3 separate regions of the Homo sapiens genome follow, and regions 2 and 3 are each reported to be linked to region 1. Evidence: microRNA targets listed by miRTarBase, many of them from high-throughput screens and not tested one by one. Region 1 holds a microRNA gene; each other region holds the end of a gene's coding sequence.

The links. Region 1 holds the annotated microRNA hsa-miR-4646-5p (ACUGGGAAGAGGAGCUGAGGGA, at 4,262-4,283, opposite strand). A microRNA usually pairs through its seed, bases 2 to 8, with sites in the 3' UTR of a target mRNA and lowers its output. Matches are read on the target gene's strand: a 7mer-m8 pairs with bases 2 to 8, a 7mer-A1 pairs with bases 2 to 7 and ends in A, and an 8mer does both.
Region 2: the mRNA of EXT1 is a reported target of hsa-miR-4646-5p. Seed matches in the 3' UTR shown: 7mer-m8 at 6,461-6,467, 7mer-m8 at 3,737-3,743 and 8mer at 3,037-3,044.
Region 3: the mRNA of LRRC8B is a reported target of hsa-miR-4646-5p. Seed matches in the 3' UTR shown: 7mer-m8 at 2,973-2,979.

The regions. Positions count from the first base shown.
Region 1 is chr6:31,696,809-31,704,586 of GRCh38, forward strand. MIR4646 (microRNA 4646) reads right to left here and starts at 4,283; the gene lies at 4,221-4,283. ABHD16A (abhydrolase domain containing 16A, phospholipase) reads right to left here and starts at 6,516. Exons shown (of 20, transcript NM_021160.3): 1 at 6,342-6,516; 2 at 5,266-5,322; 3 at 4,466-4,532; 4 at 4,134-4,220; 5 at 140-225. The coding sequence starts at 6,473.
Region 2 is chr8:117,793,186-117,800,625 of GRCh38, forward strand. It overlaps EXT1 (exostosin glycosyltransferase 1), which reads right to left. Exons shown (of 11, transcript NM_000127.3): 11 at 1,305-6,712. The coding sequence ends at 6,527. Among named protein-coding and RNA genes, the nearest start is that of SNORD168, 120 kb to the right of the region's middle.
Region 3 is chr1:89,590,916-89,598,693 of GRCh38, forward strand. LRRC8B (leucine rich repeat containing 8 VRAC subunit B) reads left to right here. Exons shown (of 6, transcript NM_001369817.2): 6 at 1,856-6,946. The coding sequence ends at 2,128. Among named protein-coding and RNA genes, the nearest start is that of LRRC8C-DT, 38 kb to the right of the region's middle. RefSeq lists an enhancer at 7,288-7,778.

The DNA of each region.
Region 1 (7,778 bases):
ATGTGCAAGCAAACACCCAGTGTGGTGGGTGGTAAAACACACCTCCTCTTCCTGCAGAAGCCAGTGTCTGGTGCTCTGAGGGACAACTGAGAAAGCTGCTATTGGGTGCCTGTGTGGCACTTTTCCTAGGGCCTCTCACCTTGTTTTCTGAAGACTGGTTCCGATGTGTTGCTTCCAAGATGGTGATGAACTGCCGGTACTGGGGGTTGGTCCAGCGGCCAATGCCTGGTAGAAAAAGGACAGGAAACAGTGCTAGGAAAACTGGGAAGCAGAAAGCCTAGGTTTTAGGAAAAGAATTGGAGATGGGCTAGAAGAAGGCCCTGTAAGAAAAAGTGAAAGAAAAAGGAACTGAGGGCATAGGATGCGGAGAAATAGATGTGAGCCAACCCCCTTCCTCCAAATCCAGCAACTGGCTACAGGACGCTTCTTCTCCCTAGCTTCTGCAGTTTGTGTCTTTATAGACAATCCTTAACCTACCATCTTCCAGAATGTTCCTCTTCCTCAGTCTTTAAACACTGTCATATAACCTATTAAATGACACTATTAAACACTATCATATAATACTATTCTCCCTTGCGAATATCAAATTTCTCTATTTTTCACTGCCATTCTTCTCCAATGTTTGCTTTCTGCCTCTTTTCTGTATATTCTAGCCCCTTGCCATCTGGCTTCAGAGTCTCCGACTCCTGCCCATAATTACTTCCTCACTGAATTCCTGACTCTTCTATCCTCATTCTCTTCAACTGTACTACTCAGCATTCTCCCTGTCCCTCAAGATTCTTCCTGCCTCTGCTTCCTGGGCCCATCCTTGACTCCTTCCAGTTCCTGAACAGTTCCTCTCCTGCCTCCTTTCTGCTTTCCTTTCTGAAGCAGAAGCAACTCTCAGTGCTGACTCTCTCTCCTCTCTCTTTTCACTTACACAGTCAGTGATTGCATCCACTCTCCTTTCACTGCTGAGCCACCTCAAACCCTAACTTCTCTCCTCACTGACTTGGCAGGTGTCGTGTGTCAGACAGGCACCGTACTACACACGGGAGACTCAGCAGGAAATGAGATACACAGCTCCTGGCTCTCAGAGAGCTGGCATTCTGGTTGGGGTTAGGTACAGCCAGGAGAAGACAATAAACAACATTTCAGAGAGGGATAAGTGCTACAGAGAAAATACAACAAGAATGAACCAGAACTTTATGTGTCATCAATGGTATTCCCCCAAAACGATATGATGAGAGAATGATGTGTGCTGCAGAATGATTTGTACAACATTTATGCCAAAAATGTAAAATGTGCAAAATAATACATACTGCTTATAGATACCATATTTCATAGATTCTAAAATGTATATTTTTTAACCCTTGAAAACTCTGAAATTAGAATTCATTTTACAATTGATGGCAGCTTAGACTTGAGGAACTGAGGTATATGTTTCATAAAAGTATGTGCCAGAAAAAAAAAAAACCCACACCAAATGACAATTATTACTTCTGAGGAAAGAGGAAGATGGGACTGAAAGGATTCCAATGGGAACTCCAACCCTAACTGTGGTGCTTTAGTATTTTGTTGACAGAAAGCATTTAAAGCAAATATCACAAAACTATATATAAAAAAAAAATCACAAAACTATACATCAAAAAATTTAAAAAGGCTTTTATATTTTGTTCTCTGGACTTTTCTGTATTTTTTCTTTTTTCTTTTTTTTGAGACAGTTTTGCTCTTGTTGCCCAGGCGGGAGTGCAATGATGTGCTCTCGGCTCACTGCAACCTCCGCCTCCCGGGTTCAAGTGATTCTCCTGCCACAGCCTCCCAAATAGCTGGGATTACAAGCGCCCGCCACCATGCACAGCTAATTTTTTCTGTATTTTTTCTAAATTAAAAATAAATAAAATAAAAAACTAAGACAAAACTGAGCAGTGGGAGCTACTTTTAGACAGGGTGGTCAGGGAAGGCCTCTCTGAGGAGAGAGCCCAGCCCTGCAGAGATCAGGGGGCAGAACACCTCAGGCAGAAGGTCCTGGACCCAACTGCGACCATCCAGCCCTGACCCCACCACCCCCATGTTGAAGCATCGCCCATCACCTGGTTGTCATCTTATGTACCCACTAGGGGTAGGTGATCTGTCCTCTTTATTTTTTTAAATTGCGAGATACAACATATGTACATAAAACATATATTCAGTTTAAAAAATACAAAGCAAACATTCATGTGACTATCACCTAGGTCAACAAAGAGAACACAGCCACCTCTCAGCAGGGCTCTCCCCCACTCTGTTCTCCCCCACCCCAGGTAATCACTCTCCTAACTTTTGAGAAAACCATGCCCTTGCTGGGCGCGGTGGCTCAAGCCTGTAATCTCAGCACTTTGGGAGGCCGAGGCGGGTGGATCACGAGGTCAGGAGATTGAGACCATCCTGGCTAACACGGTGAAACCCCATCTCTACTAAAAAATACAAAAAAACCTAGCCGGGTGTGGTGGTGGGCGCCTGTAGTCCCAGCTACTCGGGAGGCTGAAGCAGGAGAATGGCGTGAACCCGGGAGGCGGAGCTTGCAGTGAGCCGAGATCGCGCCACTGCACTCCAGCCTGGGGGACAGAGCGAGACTCCGTCTCAAAAAAAAAAAAAAAAAAAAAGAAAACCATGCCCTTGTTGTCTTCGGTGTTCTACCTCAAACATGCACATCCCTTTTGAATTTTATATAAATGAAAACATACTGCATACATTATTTTGTGGTTAGCTTCTTCTATTTAACACAACATTTGAGAAATTCATCTGCATTGCTTTTGTTTATCTGGAGACAGAGTCTCGCTCTGTCACCCAGACTGGAGTGCAGTGGTGCTATCTTGGCTCACTGCAACCTCTGCCTCCCAGGTTCAAGCAGTTCTCATGCCTTAGCCTCCCAAGCAGTTAAGACTATAGGCATGTGCCACCATGCCCAGTTAATTTTTTGTATTTTATTTTTTCTGAGATGGAGCCTTGCTCTGTTGCCCAGGATGCAGTACAGTAGCGCAATCTTGGCTCACTGCAACCTCTGCCTCTTGGATTCAAGCAATTCTACTGCCTCAGCCTCCCGAATAGCTGGGATTACAGGTGCTCACCACCATACCTGGCTAATTTTTTTTTGTATGTTTAGTAGAGACGGGGTTTCACCATGTTGGACAGACTGGTCTTGAACTCCTGACCTCTGGTGATCTGCCTGCTTCAGCCTACCAAACTGCTAGGATTACAGGCATGAGCCACTGCACCTGGCTTCATCTGCGTTGTTGAGCGTAGCTACAGTTTGTTCATTTGCATTGCTATATAGTGTTCTCTTGCATGGCTATTGCATGGAACTTTTTTTTTTTTTTGAGACGGAGTCTTGCTCTGTTGCCCAGGATGGAGTGCAGTAGCGCAATCTCGTCTCACTGCAACCTTTGCCTCCCAGGTTCAAGCTATTCTCCTGCCTCAGCCTCCTAAGTAGCTGGGATTACAGGCACGTGCCACCATGCCCAGCTAATTTTTGTATTTTTGGTAGAGACGGGGTTTTACCATGTTGGTCAGGCTGGTCTCAAATTCCTGACCTCGTGATCCACTGGCCTCTGCCTCCCAAAGTGCTGGGATTACAGGCATGAGCCACCACACCCGGCCACACAGAACATATTTTATCCATCCTACTATTTGTAGCCACTGGAGTTGTTTCCAGCTTAGGATTATTACAAACAATGTTGTATGCTGTATTCTTGTACATCTATATTGTTTATACATGTGCAGGAGTTTTCCTAGTATGTATACATATATAGAATTGTTGTAGGGTATATGCATCTTTTCTAGATAAAAGCAGCCAGGCATAGTGGCTCACATCTATAATCCCAGTACTTCGGGAGGCTGAGGTGGGAGGATCACTTTGAGTTCAGGAGTTTGAGACCAGCCTGGACAACATGGTGAGACCCTATCTCTTAAAAAAAAAAAAGCAAACCTTTTTGTTACTTTTCAGTTATTTTTTCATATTTATAACCCAAGTCTTTTAAGGAAAAGATCATGCCTTAAACCATTCTCAATGATTCCCTCTCGGAGGCCCATCACTAAAATGTATTTGCACAAGGTACTTAATTTTTAACCAGTGACAGTGACAGATAAGATTCAAACCAGGTTTCCTCTCCACCTACCTCGGAGGCAGGCCACACCTGCCAGAAGTAGCAGCAATGTCCCAGCATAGTGAGAAAACGGCACCACTTTGGACAAACTCAAGTAACCTGGGAAGGGAGAGGGACAATGTGAGACCCTCTCCGCAATGTCCCTCAGCTCCTCTTCCCAGTTCAGCCCCAACCTCCACCCCACACTCCCTGTTTGGAACAGCCATACCCTAAGAGGAAGAAGATGCCTGATGGAAGAGGGAAGCCAAGCCATCTTCACAGGTCCCCTCTCCTCTTTAGGGAGCTGGCTCATCTGCCAACAACCTGCCCATTTGCTACCCCACCACCTTTGAAACCACACTGACCTTTCCTGTACAAGTAGAAGAAGGCGAAGGGAGAGGAGTAATAAGAGATGGACCAGAATACTGAAGCCTGCAGCAGAGAGACAGGGACAGGCAATCAATACACACACACACACACACCTGCCATTCCAGGCATATACTATACACTCTGAGCAAGATGGACAACCTGAGGGATATCATATCATATTTGGTGTATGACACCATGAATACAGTAGGTGCTCAGTATTTGTTGAAAAGTAGTGTGTCAATGTAATGGAGGCTGGGAAAATTTGGTACAGGCTCTATTTTCTTCCTCTGGAATTATGGAAGAATTATGTCTTCCATCTCCAGACATAATTCCATCACATTTAAAGGCAGTCTCTCTGTCTACTCAAGTTAATCAAGCCTTTTCAATTGGCCCTGCTCAGGACAGCCCCTGGCCTGGTCCCCAAGAGATGCGCAAACGTCACCACAGGAACTGTGCCAGAAAGAACAGCTGTCCCTGCAGCCAAAGAGGTTAGTTGCCAGGGAGGACAGGTCACTGGGGAACTGCAGGACTTAGCACCTGCAGATGGTCCCAAGAGTAAACATGTTTTCCTTACGGCTCAGGTTGCCCCCAGAGAAAGCAGTGCTACATACCAAAGGGGAGTGCCAAGTATGCACATTTAGAGTGTGCCTGTGTGTCTGTGTTGGAGAGGTCTGCTGCAGAGCCCAGGGCATCCCCCAACCCCAGGGCACTGTTGCTCCCAAGTTAGGGAGGGCTAAGTTCAAGAGGACAGGTGGGTCTGAAAGATGCAGAGTCCCAGATGCCAGGGTAGACATACCAGTGCCAGGATGCTGTCAGCATGTTTCTCCAGGGCACGGGGCTGATAGTACGTATCCTGCCAAAACAGATGGCCTCCTTAAGGACCCTGCCCACTGGCAGGTCCTTTCCCTTCCCTTTCAGAAGCCCTGCTGTGTGTCCTCTGGTTCTAGTCTCGTTGACTATCTCTCTTGAAACATCCCTGGCCCCCACAGAAACTCCTCTTCCTCACCCTCACTCTGAACCTAATTTCCCACCCCTGACCATGGGAACAAACACAGGGAGCTGGATTTGGAAGCAAAAGTGAAAGCAGCATTGGACGATTTTTGCTCCTTTTCCACAGCCTAGTTTCAAATGGATTGCAGGCGCGTGCATGTGGGGAGAAGGGTTAGTTTGAGAAGAAAGAAAAGACACCTAGACAATCTAAGAAGGAAAGAAAAGCATCAGAAATAAGAGTAGTTGACTAAGAAGAGAATGTGGGTAGGAGCGGGCAGTTTGTAGGAGACAGTAACACAATGAGACAACTGATAAAAAGGAAGAGAATATTTAGAACAGCCTACCACCACCCGCCAGCTCTCCAGAATACAATGACTCGGGTCTCCAGGCTAGGTTGGGCGGGGGTTGAGGGGAGGACCGACGGATACAGGATCTGTAAAAGTCATTCTGAAATTCAAGGCGAGGGTAAAGGGAAGATAAAAACAGAGCCGGGGGAGGCATGAAGAGGCACTGAAGAAGAGGAAACTGGGAGTCTGACAGCAAAATTCAACGGCTCCCCAGTCCGCGCAGGGTCTCTTCCCGGGACTCAAGACTCAACTGGGACCGGCACGAACCACGACACACAGGGTCGGGGGGACGCGGAGAGGAAAGAACAAAGAGTGGCAGTCGGAATGAGAAAGCGGTAAAGAGCGAAAAAGAAAGGAGGCGGCCAGTCCGTAGGCGTGACTTTAACTCAGGAAGCACACAGAGCGCAGATTTTGCGGATAACTGGCTTGACAAGCAGGCTCCCCTTATTTCCCATTATGGGCACTTCTGGGGAGCAAAAGGCCGTAAAGGGTTTGGACTGTACCACGTTCTTCGGTGGGGAGGAACTCGACTCACCCAGGAGCTGGAATGGGGGGCAGTGACTGCCGTTGGCGTCTCAGGGACGCTGGCCGGGGCCCTTTCAGAGTCCCTCTCCCGGTAGATTTTGTAGAGCCGGGGGCCTAGGACGCAGCTCAGCAGCTTCGCCATGGCCCCGGCTCGGGCCGCTGCTCTTCCAGCAGCAGGTCCCCCTGCCGGCCCCGCCCTCCCTGCCTCTGAGGTGTTGTGTGCCCTTGACGTCAGCCCGTACCGGCTCCGCCTCCGGGCGAGTTGCGACATTTTCAGTGCTTCCTGAGAAGAGTTTCGCGCAGTTGGAGCTACGGGTACAGCAGTGGTCCGAAACTAGTGGAAGACCACTAGAACGCGGAGAATCAGAAAATTACCGGGCATGGTTCAATAATTTTTTTCTGTCTCATTATTGGCAGACTCTAGAGCGACAGCGGAAACGAGGGGTGAGATTAGGAGTACTTGATAAGAGTAACCGAAAACATAAGGTGTCTAGGAATGTATCTAGTACAAGAAATGCAAGGTTTTATGAAGAAAACTATAAAAAGTTATTGAAAAGGCAAACTGGCCCGGCCCGGCGCAGTGGCTCACGCCTGTAGTCCTAGCACTTTGGGAGGCCGAGGCGGGGGGATCACTTGAGGCCAGGAGTTCGAGACCAGCCTGGCCAACATGGTGAAACCCCATCTCTACTAAAAATACAAAAATTAGCCTGGCATGGGTGGTGCGCGCCTGTAATCCCAGCTACTCGGGAGGCCGAGACGCGAGAATCGCTTGAACGCGGGAGGCAGAGGTTGCAGTGAGCCGAGATCTTCCCACTGCACTTCAGCCTTGGTGACAGAGCAAGACTCTGTCTCTAAATAAATAAATAAAGGTAAACTGGCCCAGCGCGGTGGCTCACGCCTGTAATTCCAACACTTTGGGTGGCCGAGGGATGATTGCTTGCGTCCAGGAGTTCCAGGCCATGGCTCATGCCTGTAATTCCAACACTTGGGGTGGCTGAGAGAGGATTGCTTGCGCCCTGGAGTTCCAAGCCAGCCCAGGCAACATAGTGAGACCCCATCTCTACACAAAATACCAAGGGGGAAAAAAAAAAGACCTAGCAGGGTGTGGTGGTGCCCACCTGTAGTCCCAGCTACTTGGGAGGCCAAGGTGGGAGGGTCGCTTGAGCCCGGGAGTTTGAGATCGCTCCATGCACTCCAGCCTGGGTGACAGAGCCAGACCCTGCCTCAAAATAATAACAATAATAATTGAAAAAATAAAAAAAGAAAGAGGTAAACGAAAAGCTTTTCAATAAATGGAAAGCTACACCATGGTCCTGGATACGAAAATTCAGCACAGTAAGATATGCGGAATATTTGTAAAAAGAAAATAAATGAATCATTACTGTTATGCATGAACTGGATCTTAAAACCATGATGCTGAGTGAAAATAGAAAGCCACAGAAGAATG
Region 2 (7,440 bases), not on the chromosome of region 1:
GGAGTACCCAACCTAGTCTAATTTCTCCCCCAATATTTTGAGTTCCTGCATACCACAGAGGCTGCACAAAGTCAGGGGAGGCTAACGTAGGATGACGCAGGCATCTACACATAACTTGTCATTTTCTCATCTCATGAGTGGACTCAGTGGAAATGCTCAGACCATAAATCAACACCATCTGTAATTGAGGTTTGCTCAAGGTATCTTTGCATGCTATAGCATTCATTGAAATATCTGTGAGGTAGGTTAGAACCAAATTTAACAGTTACTTCTCCAACTAGCCTTCTCATTTGTTCTCCAACTTGGGAATGATTCTATCATTAGACACACCCTGGGGCCAGATTTTACAAGTGGCACTATCATAACAGTGTGCCAGCTTAGGACCTGAGTTCACCACATTCCTTTCTGAGCCTACTCTGATGATTTGCCTTGGACTGGCCTTGTCCAAGCTCACCTTGACATCTGCCTTGTTCAGTGCTCAGTAGGCAGTTGTTGTTTAGAAAGTCTTTGTAAGTAACTATTTTAAAGTCACCATTTTACAGATGGACAAAGTGAAATACAGAACACAAAATGTGATTGATGTCATAAAGCAAATCAATGCTCCCAAATGCAATTTGCCATTCGCTCTCCTGTAAATATGTGAAATTGGTGACTTAATGTTCTTACTGTAAAAATGCCCAAAGAAAGAGAATAGAAGAAGAGTAACAGAGTTGGGGGAGAGCTACCACTGGAATGGAAGGAGCGAGGGAGGAAAATAGGAAAGGAGGAAGGAGTATTGCGAGAACATAAAACCTTACTACAGTGGCCCTGAATCATGGAGCTGCAACACACCTGGAGCACTTATAAATTCTTTTGAGAAATGCCAGTGTGACATACGCCTCGCAAGCCAGCAATTCATGAACTCGATGCAGTAGTTGAAACCAAAGGGGTAATGGCCACAGCTGTCAGGATCCAGATGCTCTGGGGCTCGGCCCTGCCACTTTGTCCCAGCATTCATGCGAAGGAATGCTGTGAACTGGGCATATCACCACTGTTCACCCTGGCCTGCTTCCAACAGCACCGGCTGCATCTGGCCTGGAAGATGGCCATGGCTGGCGGCCCTATGTTCCCCATAAGGTTGGGCACTGGGCTGCAGCCAGGCTGCGAGTGCTGGACCTACATCCAGCACACTCTCCGTCCAACCTCATCTGCCTGTCTACCCCAGAACCCCCAAGGAAGCTTGGCCTTTCCTGGCACACAGAATCCTCCTGAGAACTGGCGTCTTTCTGCAGTCAACAGAAAAGATGGAATGAAAACCACACAGATGAAAAGTCATGTCATTTATTAATAATTTCTTTTTTTTTTCTTCTATAAATTGGAAGGAAAAAGTCTTTGGTGACACTCTCTATAAAACAATCTATCTTGGATGGCGAAACCCAGACATAAAGTTACACAGGTCAGTGAAGTAAATCAATATCTATGGCTTTGTATTTTCTCACACGCGCTCTCTCACACATACTTGAGGGCTTAATTACGCTAAGTCATTAATACTCTATAACAAATGGGAAAAACACTTCAGAAAAGACCTGTGGTGACACTACAAAAACATTGGCAACATATTAGAAAACTCTGTCCCAAGTGTACATCGTATACAAAATAAGGTATACTTTTGTTTTTTGCGTTACAATTTGCCACCTAAAATAGTTCCAGTTTTTGATGTCTTTCTTTCTGCCCCTCAACATATCCTATACATATTGTTCTCTCAAAATAAGTACACAAGGTTCATTACATGGTAACCAGGTCATTTGCATAGCCCTAGTTTTAGTAATAGTTACAACCGAAAGGACAGGGATGTATTCCTGTAGGAGAAGAACAGAAAACTATTGCAGAAATCAAATGGCCTGAGGCCTAAAAGGCAAATCATTACAAAACCAGAGTGACTGAAAGGCTAGCCTGACTTGATTTTAAACAAGGGTGAGACTGTGCTATCCTGAGGGCTCAGCTTTCTCAAGGTTTGCCTTCTTCTCCTAGTTGCTGGGCCATGTTAAGTTCCAATTCTGGGTAGCTCACTGAGGTTCCTGATATAAAATGTATTGGAACTCTAGACCAGTGACAACTACAATCCCTACTAGGTAAAACTCATGGAGACAAAAGCCTTTGATTTTTGGAAAGGGCAAAAAGGGGAGAGATGGTTTTGAGGAGTCAAATCCATCATCACAATTATGGTGTAAATAACAGCTTTTTTATCCAGAGGTTCTGTACAGCATTATTGAACTGATGGGAGAGACCACTATCTTAGGGTACTTAATCCCCCAAGCTTTTTTTTTTTTTTAAAGAAAAAAAAAAGGGGGGCCAGGCGCAGTGGCTTACACCTGTAATCTCAGCACTTTGGGAGGCAGAGGCAGGTGGATCACCTGAGGTCAGGAGTTTGAGACCAGCCTGGCCAACATAGCAAAACCCTGTCTCTAATAAATATACAAAAATTAGCCCAGTGTGGTAGCACATGCCTGTAATCCCAACTACTAAGCAGGGTGAGGCAGGAGAATTGCTTGAACCGGGGAGGCGGAGGTTGCAGTGACTGAGCTGAGATCACACCAATGCATTCCAGCCTGGGTGACAGGGCAAGACTCTGTCTCAAAGAAAAAAAAAAGACTTGGTGTCAAAGGATAAACTAATCTCTTTATGCTGAAGTTCTTATACCAAGTGAGACAAGTTTAGCACAGTTTGATATTAATGCTTATTTGCTGAGAACTCAACTCAAAACAACTTTGTCCCTGTAAGCATGCCTGAGAAAATGAGGCTGATAGTGAAAGAAATTTCTTGGTTAAATCTGGCCAAGAATGACAAAACCAACTGAAAGGTTCTTGTCCATAGTCGCTGTAAAGGGGAACTAGGTAAATGAATTCAGCAACTGCGGTCCTGATGTACTGGCTGCATGTTGATTATATTCACAAGTAAGAGGCAGGAGCATTTTTATTTGAGAGTTCATGGCAATAACTGCTACTTTTAAATACTGGAGATCTCAAGAGACCCAAGGGAACACAAGACACTTCCAGGTCTGGGAAGTTTGCTTGGCTTTTGCATCCATAATTCAGCCTTGTCCAGCAAGAATCTCATTCAGATTCCAACCTAGTAAGGCTGTCTTCCCCCTGATCCTGCCCTTTAAACAGGTTTGTTCTTAAATCAAGTGCCCTGTTTTTTTTTTTTTTAATTAAAAAAAATAGTATATAGGCCTATTCACATTCATTCATCTCACCCCTGATTAAAGTTCAGTAACCTTTATGAAAGGCCACCAGCATAATACTCTTTCAAGTCACCAGGTATTTGAGAACCACCAAAATAAAGGCTAACATAGCCTACTGTAATGAAAACCAAAAGTCATTCTAAAAGGGAAATTGAAGGATGCAACCGGATTGATCCTTCTTTGAGCACCATTTGTCACAAGAAGAAATTAAACTGTAATGCACATAAGATTCCAGTAACAAGCTTTCCCTTTTTTTTTGAAGCATCTATCTGAAAGTGTGTTGATACGACCAGGTAGGCCCACCTAGCTATGCTATCTTTTGTGGTATGACTATCGTGATTATTTCATGGATTTTTCTCTACAGTCTCAATTTTGAGCCATTTTGCTAGCTTCAACAAAGGTGATATGTATTAATGTATTTGTAAGCTTTGATATTTATAACACTTTCATATAAATAAATACACAGCCAGCTTTTAAAAAATTACTTTTAAGATCCTGTGTCTTAATGTGGAGCTGGGAAAAGATGCTGTGTGGAAATCCATAAGTGGCTGAGTCCTCTTTGGAATTTCTGCAAGCAATTCATTACGTGGTTGGCACTGTACTCTCAGCCCTTGGCTTCTCTCCAATGCAGCACATGTTAGCCCACTTAGGGACCCCTAGTTATCATTAAAGTTGACCAGGAGATAATTCCTGACACCCTACAGAGATGGCTATGATTTGTCAACTTGTTGCAATGCAATACAACTCTTTCCTAACTGAATTAAAATTACATATTACTGTCGAGCTTCACTGATTTGTTAAGCATTGTTCTATTCCCAGCCTTATATTCCAAATGGGAGAAGAACACGCTAGCTCACATCCCAAAGAGATTTGCTCAGAGAATGACATAAAATGAAACTGTGGAGATTTAAAGTGGATGAAAGGTGTGTTATATCCTGTTCTTATTTATAATTACCATTTTTCTTCACATAACACATGTTGTTTGTGGAGGATATGTGTTGTGAGCTTGGTGACAGGTCAATCTGGCAAAGCAGGTCCTTGAATCCACTTGTGTGACTGACTGGTACAATTAGGGACATTGCTTTGCAAGCCAATATGACCACCTAAGTTTCAAGTTGGTTTTGGGGTCATTGAACAAAATATCGCATTTATTTTTTGGTAAAGGAGAAACAAGAATAATTTGCCAATCCTGAAAAAAATAATTTAAATACAAATTCACAAAGGCCAAATGAATAAAGATTAACTGCTAATCTTTTAACTTGCTGAGAAGTGCAGCTTAAATGACATGAAACCTGTAAGACCAAACATTTTATAGAAAAGACACAAGTGCAAGCACCATGGACCTAAGAATTATTTTTCAACAAATGCCTAAGAGATAATCACATCTACTTAGGGGAAAATGTCACATGTTTGAGAATGGACTATGGATGGGTCCAATTAGATGAGAGAGGTATTTAGGGAGCTGTTCTGAGTCATGAGGCTGAGGAGAAAATCCTCTCTTTAATTGAATTTCACTGTCTACGCACCTCTCAAAACACCATCTGGATATGTGGGCTCTACTCCTTGTTCTGCAGCTAGGTAGCCTGTTGAGTCACTTCTCTGGACTTCCACAAACACTTTCACTCCTGTTTACAGCACCATCCCCGTGCTATCATTACAAGCTCCTCTTCCTCTCCCAGATGTCTACAAAGAAAGGATGAGGTAAAGTCCAATGGACTTACGGTTTCCACTGACCTAAGATGGCCACTTGAAATTATCAGAACAAAATTCTCTGATGAACTTTTCTTCTAAAACAAAACTGAAAATAAATGGAAAAGAAATATGAAATGTATGAGAGTTTGAGGGAGGGACTCTAAAGTGCTTATTGTTTATTCAGCATAATACATGGTCAAACTCAATAATGTCTTTCTCTTCCCTGTTTTCTCTGGCCTCTTCCAAGTAGAAGAAAGCATTTAATATCAGAAGTCTCCATTTTTCATAACAGAGTTAGGGATATGTTTTTTTTTTCAGTTTATACTTGGAGTTTAACAATAATCATAAGCCCAAGATAGCATTTTCAGGGATAGAAATGTTCTTTTTAACAAGAAGCACAACTAAACTTTTCCACAGATTTAAAAATTAAAAGTAAATGAAACTATATTCACATTTGTTGTTGATTATTTTGTTTGCCAGATTCTTGCTCAAAACAATGTTTGACCAAAAATGGCATTAGGGTCCCAATGGCGAGACATCTCCTCAGTTACTTTGCAGCAATCCTCTTGTTCATTGGTGTGAATTTCTACCTTATTACCCCTTTTTCTTTCTCAAAAGAGAAACTCTGAAACTTGAGATTCTCACAAACATTAAAGAGTTCATCTTGTAAATAATCTGTTCTCCCCAATATACTCATTATTCCTTGGCTTCTAAACCAAAGCCTCTTCCCAGTGCTACGCAGACTTAGGTCAATGGTTGAATCTATAACCGTGCCCCCAACCCCTGCAAGTATTGGGTTACTGTTGTGGGTCTGTATTTCCATCTCACTAACATGCTGGTGGGTTATCTGGATAGTTCTTTGTGCAAACTGAACATTTCTTAATTATACTAGTGTTTTCTTGGTACTAATTCCCCCCACCCCCCCAATGAAAAACGATTATCATATATATCTATCTCAAACATAGAGATTTCAGTTAGAACTGCCTACCTGGAAGTCGTAATACTTTCTTTCATGCAGCGACATTTTAGAGATAAAAGTTCAAGTGGATTTGAAGATTCGAAGTGGAAAACAATTTGCACTGGCAAAGTTGAATAATGAAGTTACAACTTATGCTCAGTTATTTCTTGATAATGGGTAGAGTGACTTATTGTGTTTTCCACGAAGTTTGAGCTTTTGAAACTGCAGGGCACCCTACATGGCCATGACAATGATGTCTGTGGGAAAAGGAATAGCAGCTTTGAAATATTCACAACCAACACAATTTTGATTAAACAAAGAACTCTGGTTTTTAATAGTTTTGATCATTAAAAAAGTTTAAACCTGCATAGCAATCATTTCAAAAATAATTATTTAATGTTCCATAATTAAACTGTACACAACCTAGTCTTGGGACACAGAAGCCAGTGAGGTGAGTTTGGAGCAGTCTGGTGCAGTCCCAGGAGCCAGGAGTTGAGTTCTCATTGGCCTTTTTTTTTTTGTCATTCTGCTCATCTAAGTTTTTGGATAGTTGGCACAATCTGGCTCTGCTGATGAGTGGATCTGCACTGGGAAGAGAGAGCAGCTTGACCCCCATCCCTTCTTGCTTCCCCTCCCCCACTCAGCCGGATTCCTCAAAGTCGCTCAATGTCTCGGTATTTCTTCCTCAAAATAGAGACCTGGTCTTTAAAGAGGACGGGGTCGAGCCTCATCTGAGAGTGGATCAGCGGCATGTAGCCAAACCAGCTGGCAAACGTATTCATGCAGCTCTGTCGCTGGGCAAAGTGGTCAGGGTCAGCCCAACGGGAAGCCCGAGAAGTCTAGGGAGAAGGAGAGAAACAAGGATAATGATGAGAGAAGTGCAAGGTGAGATGGAAACATTGCAGAAAATGGAGTCAGGCAAATGAGCAAGCAGCAAAGCTTGGGGTCTGGCCCGGCCACCAAGTCTCACCATCTATGCACCTGCTGAAAATGCAATCGCTGATATTGGTTTTTCCCAAGGTATGCTACGTTCCTCAGTGTTAAAAACACAAAAACAAAGATTCATGTTGACTTTAATTCTCTAAAATTTATTGACTAATTCTCTGGTCAGTCCACGACTTAGCAACTGAAACTCGACTACTACAGTGACTCAATCTAAAACCTCTCTTTGCACTTGGGACCAAGTACTAAGATTAAAGATGTGTTTCTGCTTTCAAAGAGTTTTCTAAATCCTTCCTGTTTATGTAGTTGATTTAGAAATACCCACCAACTTTTAGAAGTCTATCTTTCTCTCTATCCATCACTTCCTTCCTTCTACTATCTCTTTACCTTTATAAGGGTCCTACTAAATCCTTTGTTAAAAATTCACATATATAGTTGAAGAAGAACAAAATAGTGCCTTTTACATGTCACTCAAGGCTAGTGTTACGCAGCATCTAAAACTCCGTTTTCTCTTCTGTAGCCTCCCCATTGACGTGACTCCATGAGGATGAGAAGGTGAGATTCAGTGGTATATAGAGCATGTTGCTGTATGACTAACTTTATACTAAAATCTCAAAATTCTGTT
Region 3 (7,778 bases), not on the chromosome of region 1:
TTTGGTTGTCACAACTGGGAAGGGGAGTGGCACTGGTAACTGGTGGGTAGAGGCTGAGGATGCTGCTAAACATCCTACACTGCACAGGACAGCCCCACAGCAAGAATTTTTCCACCCACAATGTCAACAGTGCTGAGGCTGAGATGTCCATGGTGACCTGCATTAGGCTAAAGTTTTCAAAGGCAGTCTTTCTAACTCAGTACTTGATCCCAGCAGCTAGCTGGGAGCCTGGCACATTAGAAGGCACTCAGCACGTGCTCACTGAATATAAATGAGCCAAGCCTAATTTCTTTTTTAGCCAGTTTGCCTGAGTCATTTCATAGGCACCAACAAGCACTCTTAATAATGCACACTGCAAAGGACTGATTTTTTCCTTCACTTGGACATCACTGATCCTACTTCTGAGCTGCAGGTATCTCTGTGCAGAAGGGGTTGCCTTAGAAAGAGGTTGCATTTCTTCTCATCTCTCTGCCTCATCTCCCAATGTAAGTCTGCATATGTAGGGTTTGCATCTGCTCTTGGGAAGGAAATGAAAGTAAAGGGTAGATATTTTTCCCTTTGTTTATATCTAATATTTTGGTGTACAATGATGATCTATATGGAATGTTGTTCTTAGCAGTGACAATCATTAGATTTATTTTTAAGGATATACAGCACTGAACGTGTGTTAGAGGGAGGGGTGATGTAGGAGAATGGAGTTTACAACATCATTAACATTTTTAATGGAATTTGGTCATTTTTTAGTTTATATAAAAGCTATTTATCCTTTTGAGGAGAGACAGTTCTGGATGGCCCTAGAAACTTGTCTCCCAGCCGGTCTGCATTAGCCCGTCAGAGGATATAGGCCAAGTCCCTGAGTGCCCTTTTTATCCCTGTTTCTAACAAAGCCAGTTTTGGAACCAAGGAACCTACATTATTTCATAGTTTTTGTAGGTGGCCCCTGTCCCCAGCCAATATGTAGAGTATTATGGGGGGTAGGGAGCGGTGGTATGTGCAGTCTATCTATGCTGAGGCCAGACTTATCCCTCAGTGAAGTGATGAGTTGAAGGGATTGTGTATGTGCTCAACTTCTTCTCTGGAGGTCTTTCCTCAATAAACCCTATTTCTTCTATGTACTGTGGCGCCCTTAGAAATTGACATGCAACCTATCTACCATATAGGGCAGCAGTCAACGGGAGCAGCTTTAGGAGTTGACCTAATTTGCATAATATTTATTATATTTAAAAGTATCTGTGTTATAAATTATTTAGTTGAAACCATGCCAGAGGGAAGGAACAAGAGTAAATATTCAGGTGTATGTGTATGTAGAGGGGAATGAAATGTGCATGTATATATAATCATATTTTTTTGCTCTGCTTCTGTAGGCTTTTTTAAAAAAGAGAATAAGGTTTTCAGTCTGCTGTCAGATTCTTAGGATGTTTTTAAGGGTATTATTCATTACATTACACAGTAAACTTTTTATGAAGACTCTTGAGGGTAATTTATTTCTGATCAAGGACTCAAGAGTAATTATGATTTTTCTTACTGGTTTGTTTTTATCTTAACGACAATGTGTGTATAACTACATTTTATTTAAGAATTGCTTGTTAGAGTGTTTAAAACCAAATTCGTTGCCCACCCATATACAGCAAGGATGTAGGTGTCCAGGGTAGCCACAGTCCTCACTCCTCATTGTACTCCTGTCTTCATTTTCCCTCTATCTTTTCATCTACTTCAAATTTATCATCATTGTAGTCTGCATCACTTATAAACCTCCAGAAATGTTTTGTTTTTTTTTTTTTGGAAAAAAGGTAAATGTCTTATCATAAGCCACCAAAAACCTATTTTACCAGCTTCTTTTTTCTTCCCTTTCCAGATTGAGATGCTACCAGATGGGCTGTTTCAGTGCAAAAAGCTGCAGTGTTTACTTTTGGGGAAAAATAGCTTGATGAATTTGTCCCCTCATGTGGGTGAGCTGTCAAACCTTACTCATCTGGAGCTCATTGGTAATTACCTGGAAACACTTCCTCCTGAACTAGAAGGATGTCAGTCCCTAAAACGGAACTGTCTGATTGTTGAGGAGAACTTGCTCAATACTCTTCCTCTCCCTGTAACAGAACGTTTACAGACGTGCTTAGACAAATGTTGACTTAAAGAAAAGAGACCCGTGTTTCAAAATCATTTTTAAAAGTATGCTCGGCCGGGCGTGGTGGCTCATGCCTATAATCCCAGCACTTTGGGAGGCCAAGATGGGCGGATTGCTTGAGGTCAGGAGTTCGAGACCAGTCTGGCCAACCTGGTGAAACCCCATCTCTGCTAAAACTACAAAAAAATTAGCCAGGCGTGGTGGCGTGCGCCTGTAATCCCAGCTACTTGGGAGGCTGACGCAGGGGAATTGCTTGAACCAGGGAGGTGGAGGTTGCAGTGAGCCGAGATTGTGCCACTGTACACCAGCCTGGGTGACAGAGCAAGACTCTTATCTCAAAAAAAAAAAAAAAATGCTCCAGGGCTTTAAATGAGAAGTAAAATTTTCTAAGTTAATAAAGATGAAGAATGGGTGACTATTATGATGAACCATAACTAAATGTCTTATTAAAGCAACTGAGTGTCTAGCCCTAAATTAACCAGGTAAAAACTGTTAACACTAACCTGAAGTTTTGTGAATAACTGTTCTTTAACTTATTGAGATGTTGCAAGAAATGCACATCCAGGGTGGACTGGGAGCTATGAAATGACTAAATTCCTCCTTGCAGTGTTTACCTTCAAGATTGTATAGGTATTCTCTCCTCTTCTTCCCCCAGTCCCCATTACTTATTTGCACACTTGTTTTAACTGACTTCCTGTTTTGATATTTATCACCAAGACCATAAACTCATCAATATGAATTTTCTTGATGTATACTCACGACTGTCTTTGATTTATGTTCCTAAATTTTTTTAGATAGGGTATGTTGTGCTTGGCAGAATTCTTTTTTGGCTTAATTTTTACTTCCTTTCCCAGCTTGCTTGAGTCTTCCTTAACCTGGTTTTCTCTTAACACCAATGATGAACCCTGAGAAAATGCCTGCATTTGGCCTTTGCCTAGAACAGGAGCTGAGTATTTAAGATGTATTATCCTCGGGGCATCCTGAAAATTAATGTATTCCCTAAAATTTCTTCTTGTCTATCATCAAGGCCTTTTTTTATTTGTTAAGAATTTTTATATTAAATGTAAAACATATAAATATTTTCTATTGTATAATCTTGGATTCAACATCTGTGAGGATCATTTTTGTAAGATACATAGAATTTGTGCATTTCTTTATGAACTTACTGTTAGTGTTCTTGGTTTCGGCTGTTTATGACTCATGTTTATGTACATTCTGCTCCAAAATGTTTTTGTACTCTGCAACTAATTACTTTTGGATAACAAAAGCCTTGTGTTTAATGCCCTAAAGTATTTGGGGGTTTCCTTGTGAGAGGGTGGCCGAATCATCTACCTCTCTCTTCCATAGTTGCTGTGCAATCGTACGGGTAAAATTCTTAATTACTTACAAAAACTGTGATAGAGGGGAGAGGTACAGATTTGGTTTTTAAATTGATTTTAAAATACTTTATAGAAATTTAGTAAGAGTTAAAGCAAAAGACTTTTTTTCCCTCCATCTATGTAATCTCTAGCTATGATTATAATGTAAAACAGCCTCTATTCAGTGTCTAAAATGAGTTCTCAAAACCCACAAAGAAATAGATCCATTTAACTGAAATTCATCTCATGCCTTTATCTAACTCTTCTGGAAAATACATTTTGCTCCTTTTTATAAAGAGCTTTGTGCTTGGCCTTTTATTATGCATATTTTTAATGAATAAAATCAACTGACTCATTTTTGGGAAATGTACATCTTTAATATGTTTTTCCCTAAGGGTCTAGGCATTATGATGCCACCTCTTCATTTTGGATATAACTATGAAGAAATCTATTAACTGCACCTACACAAAACTGGAAAACACTATAGGTAAACAGTACTGTGTATATGGAATTGTGGTGCGTGGTATGTGTTTTCTCTTGCTTTGTTCCAGAAAGATGAAAGTGAGTCTTTAAAGCATAGCAAATAGAGCTTCCCCTCACCTGCCACACACTCCTGCACTAAAGTTCAAAGAAAAGAATTATTCAAATCAAATGAAATTTGAATAATATTAGCTATCAGGAATATAGGACACCAAACACACTGCCTCACACATTATTGTTTATTCTGAACGGAAAGGAACAGTGTAAAAATAAACTACTTACCAAAACTTGCCTTTAGTCAGAACATTCAGCTCTCAGGGAAGCAGGTATAACTGATGAAACTTCTAGGACTTCAGAAAACAGATTCTAATTATATCCATGTTTTTCGTTGTTATTTTCATTTTTTAAAGTGTGAGTTGATGTTTATTTTAGTGTTTCACAATAGAATTATCATGTATACTGATTCCAGTGTGGCATGTGATTAAGTTTTGGACATGAATATGCCAAAAGTGCTTAAATGTTTTTGGCCACATAACTAGCTAGAATTTCAAAACAAAATTCAGATTTGCTACCATTCACCTGACGAACTTCTCCATGGCTCGTCACTGGTTTGGTTCAACTGCAGAAGTCATTGGCTAAATTTTCCTTATCACCTACGTAAATTTCTAGAAGAATTTACTAGCAGGATTAATAATGAATATTATAAACTGCTTTCCACACACTAGGGTATAATTATTGGTGCAATCTATGTTGTTCTTGATGCCATGGTTTTACATCTTTTAATTTAAACCTTATACACCAGTGTTTAGGTCGCTTTTGAGACAAGGTAGCCCTGATGCAAGGAAAAATGAGGCTACTACTTCACATAAAAAATAGGGTGTTAATACCACCTTTACTGTACTGTTGGAGCAGATCTTTATTTTACAAGTGTTCATATTCACATAAGAGAATTTTAAATGAAGAAAATTAAGTTTGTTAAATTATAATTATGAGACTTTCGTTGGCATTTGATTTCAAGAATACATATGCATTTTCCAAAAAATAAATGTGGAGGTTATTCAGAACAAAATTCATAGCTTACGGTAGTAATGGCATGGATTAATTTTATTTGCATGCACACACAGACACACATACTTCATATATGCAAATTATAGCATTAGTTTTTGATATATCTAGTGGTTTTTTTTTCAAAATTGCAGGAGGTTGTAGATTAAATTAAGTATGATAGCACGTTTTTTAATTCATTAATCATGAAGTGCTCTGTTCCCTAAGTTATGACATTTAGAAGAAATCACATGCTCAACCTTAATCTGAGAACCTAAGTGTTTTTGAGCATTCCAGTAAAGGAGTAGTGTTCTTTTCCTAACTTACATCAGGGTACATCTGTGTGGCACACAGATACTATCTTTTCATTCTTCACTCCCAGTCTTAATTTCTTTCCCCTGTATGTCACTGTATTTTATGTCACTTCACATTGTGTTAAACAGGGTAAATAGAGATCCTCAGTATCTCAGTGCTGTGGCATAGCTCCAATAGGTGTGCTGTGGTGCACTGCAGTGATGTATTTGCATAACATTGTTTGATAGTGAAAAATTTTTTTTCGGTTCAAGTGTTTTGTGATTAAAATTTTATGTTTAATTAAAATATTGCATAATATTGATGGGTTCAAAAACCATTAAAATAATCAAACAATTATTCTGTGCCCTTAACATTATTTTCTTGTGTTTTCAATAAAATTTTCTTTTCATCTTTCCATCTTCACATTCTCTTAGCATCATCCTATGCACATAAGGTATGTTGTTTTCCTTCTCCACTCACCTACCGCACTAAATTTGATCAGCAATTGTACAGTAACAGAATATATTTGTGCCAGAAGATTTGCAATGATATTTGAGCATGTATTTATTTAGGAGGAAGCCAGTGCCTGTAATTATGTCTCATTGAGTAGTTTTACTTTGCCCATCCTGCAGTATTTAGAGCTGATCTGTACCCAAAGCAGGACAATGTAACTGTAGATCTGCTTTGTTTTCAGTAACTGTACATTGCATCAGAATCTGTTTATTTCTATCTGGAAACAGACAGAATGGTGGGGGAGGGAAGGAGTTATTTTGCATCCTAGTTTGTATTATGAAGTCATCATATATATATTTGAAATAGTATAAGCTAATTACTGTTGCAGAATGCCCTCGATATAATTATTTCTTTTCAGCTGGATGTGAAAAGCTGAAGCAGTGAAAACCTGCAGTCTTATTTCACTGGTTTCCTTCTGTTTCTTGTCCATCACTTCTGTATCCACAGGGAGCTATCTACTACATACCTTTGGTAACAGGCTACATTCTCTTCAGATTTTTTATATGAATAATTTCATCAGCACTAAAGCATTAACATAGAATAATGAGCCAAAGTACTGAGTCGAGATGGCTTTCAGTTGAGTTTAATTTCATATTTAACTTTTGCATTTAACTTGTATAATACACTACTGCTGAGAAAAACAATTATGAATGCCTTCTGCATGTTGTACATTATCTCTAACAGAGATGGTGCAATTTTAAGAATACAAAGGGGTATAGAGTTAGAATGGATGTGTTCGTGCATATATATGTTGTATTTAAATATTAATGTTTACAAGAAGATTTTTTTTAAATTCTTCAAATACTTCACTTAGTGAAATAATGGGCCAATCTGGAATAGAGACATTTTATTTGGTTAGTGCAAGAGTGAAAGCTAGCATTTGTTAACCTTCACATATTTATCTGTGTACAATTGTTTTTGCTTCTGGTAATGAATTATTAGAAAATGGAAGATTTTGTTCAATGTTTTTGGCCCTCAGGTTTACTGTGTAAATCTGCATTTTTGGTGGTAAATCCCTTTGCCACAGATTCAGTAGCTTTTGGTAAACTTCACTGTTTTTAAAGTACCTTTTGTGTAAAATAAAGATCCAATTTTTATAACAAATGGCAAATAAAAACAGTAAATGCTGGAAGAAGTTGACTGTACTAATTTTAACCAAGTTCCAAAAGTGATTCCCTCTCTCTTCTCATGCTTCCTTGTACTGTCGTACTGTTATTCACCAAATAATAGATTTCAGATTTACATGTGAATCTTACAACAATGGTATGAGTTTTCAAAATATGCTACCATGGCCACAAAATAACAAGCACCTGAAAAGAGCTGCGTGGATCCTAGAATACATGGGTTGCGGGGGGTAGTAGATCTCTCATGAGTGGGCCCGTCTTTCCTTGGAATTCATCAGGGACAGATGTTCATAGAACGCCTCATCTCTCTCCTTTCTTCTTGGTGCCTGTTTCTCCATTTCCTGTTTAACACTGAATTGTGAACCAGGTAAGCAAAAGCTAAAGAACTGCAAGACAGGCAATTCTGAGATGGTTTAGTCAAAGGTGAAAAAATTGAATTACTGGATAAAATAAGTACATGATAGTTTGAACTTTTCGATAGAAAACAGCCTCTCTCGGTCTCTTACATGCACACACACACACAGTTTCAGGACCACATTAGAAGGCTGATAGCCAGAATTTTGCTGGAATATATATAGACTGAATCAGATTATGAAGGAAAGTAACTTAGTTGTTCCCTGGCCATATTCTCTGAAAATGCAGTAAGTCATTCAAGAAAGGCTTCCCCCATCTCTAAGTGGTTCAGGAATGGGAAGTCTATTGAAATGAAGTGAGTGCCTGCCTCCAGGCATTAGCAGCCTTTCAGGGACTGCTAGGTGCTTTGAGATGCTGAAGTTATATGCTAACAGTCTGCCCAGCAGTGACATGGCCCCCTAAACACAGCAATAACTGTGGCTTCAT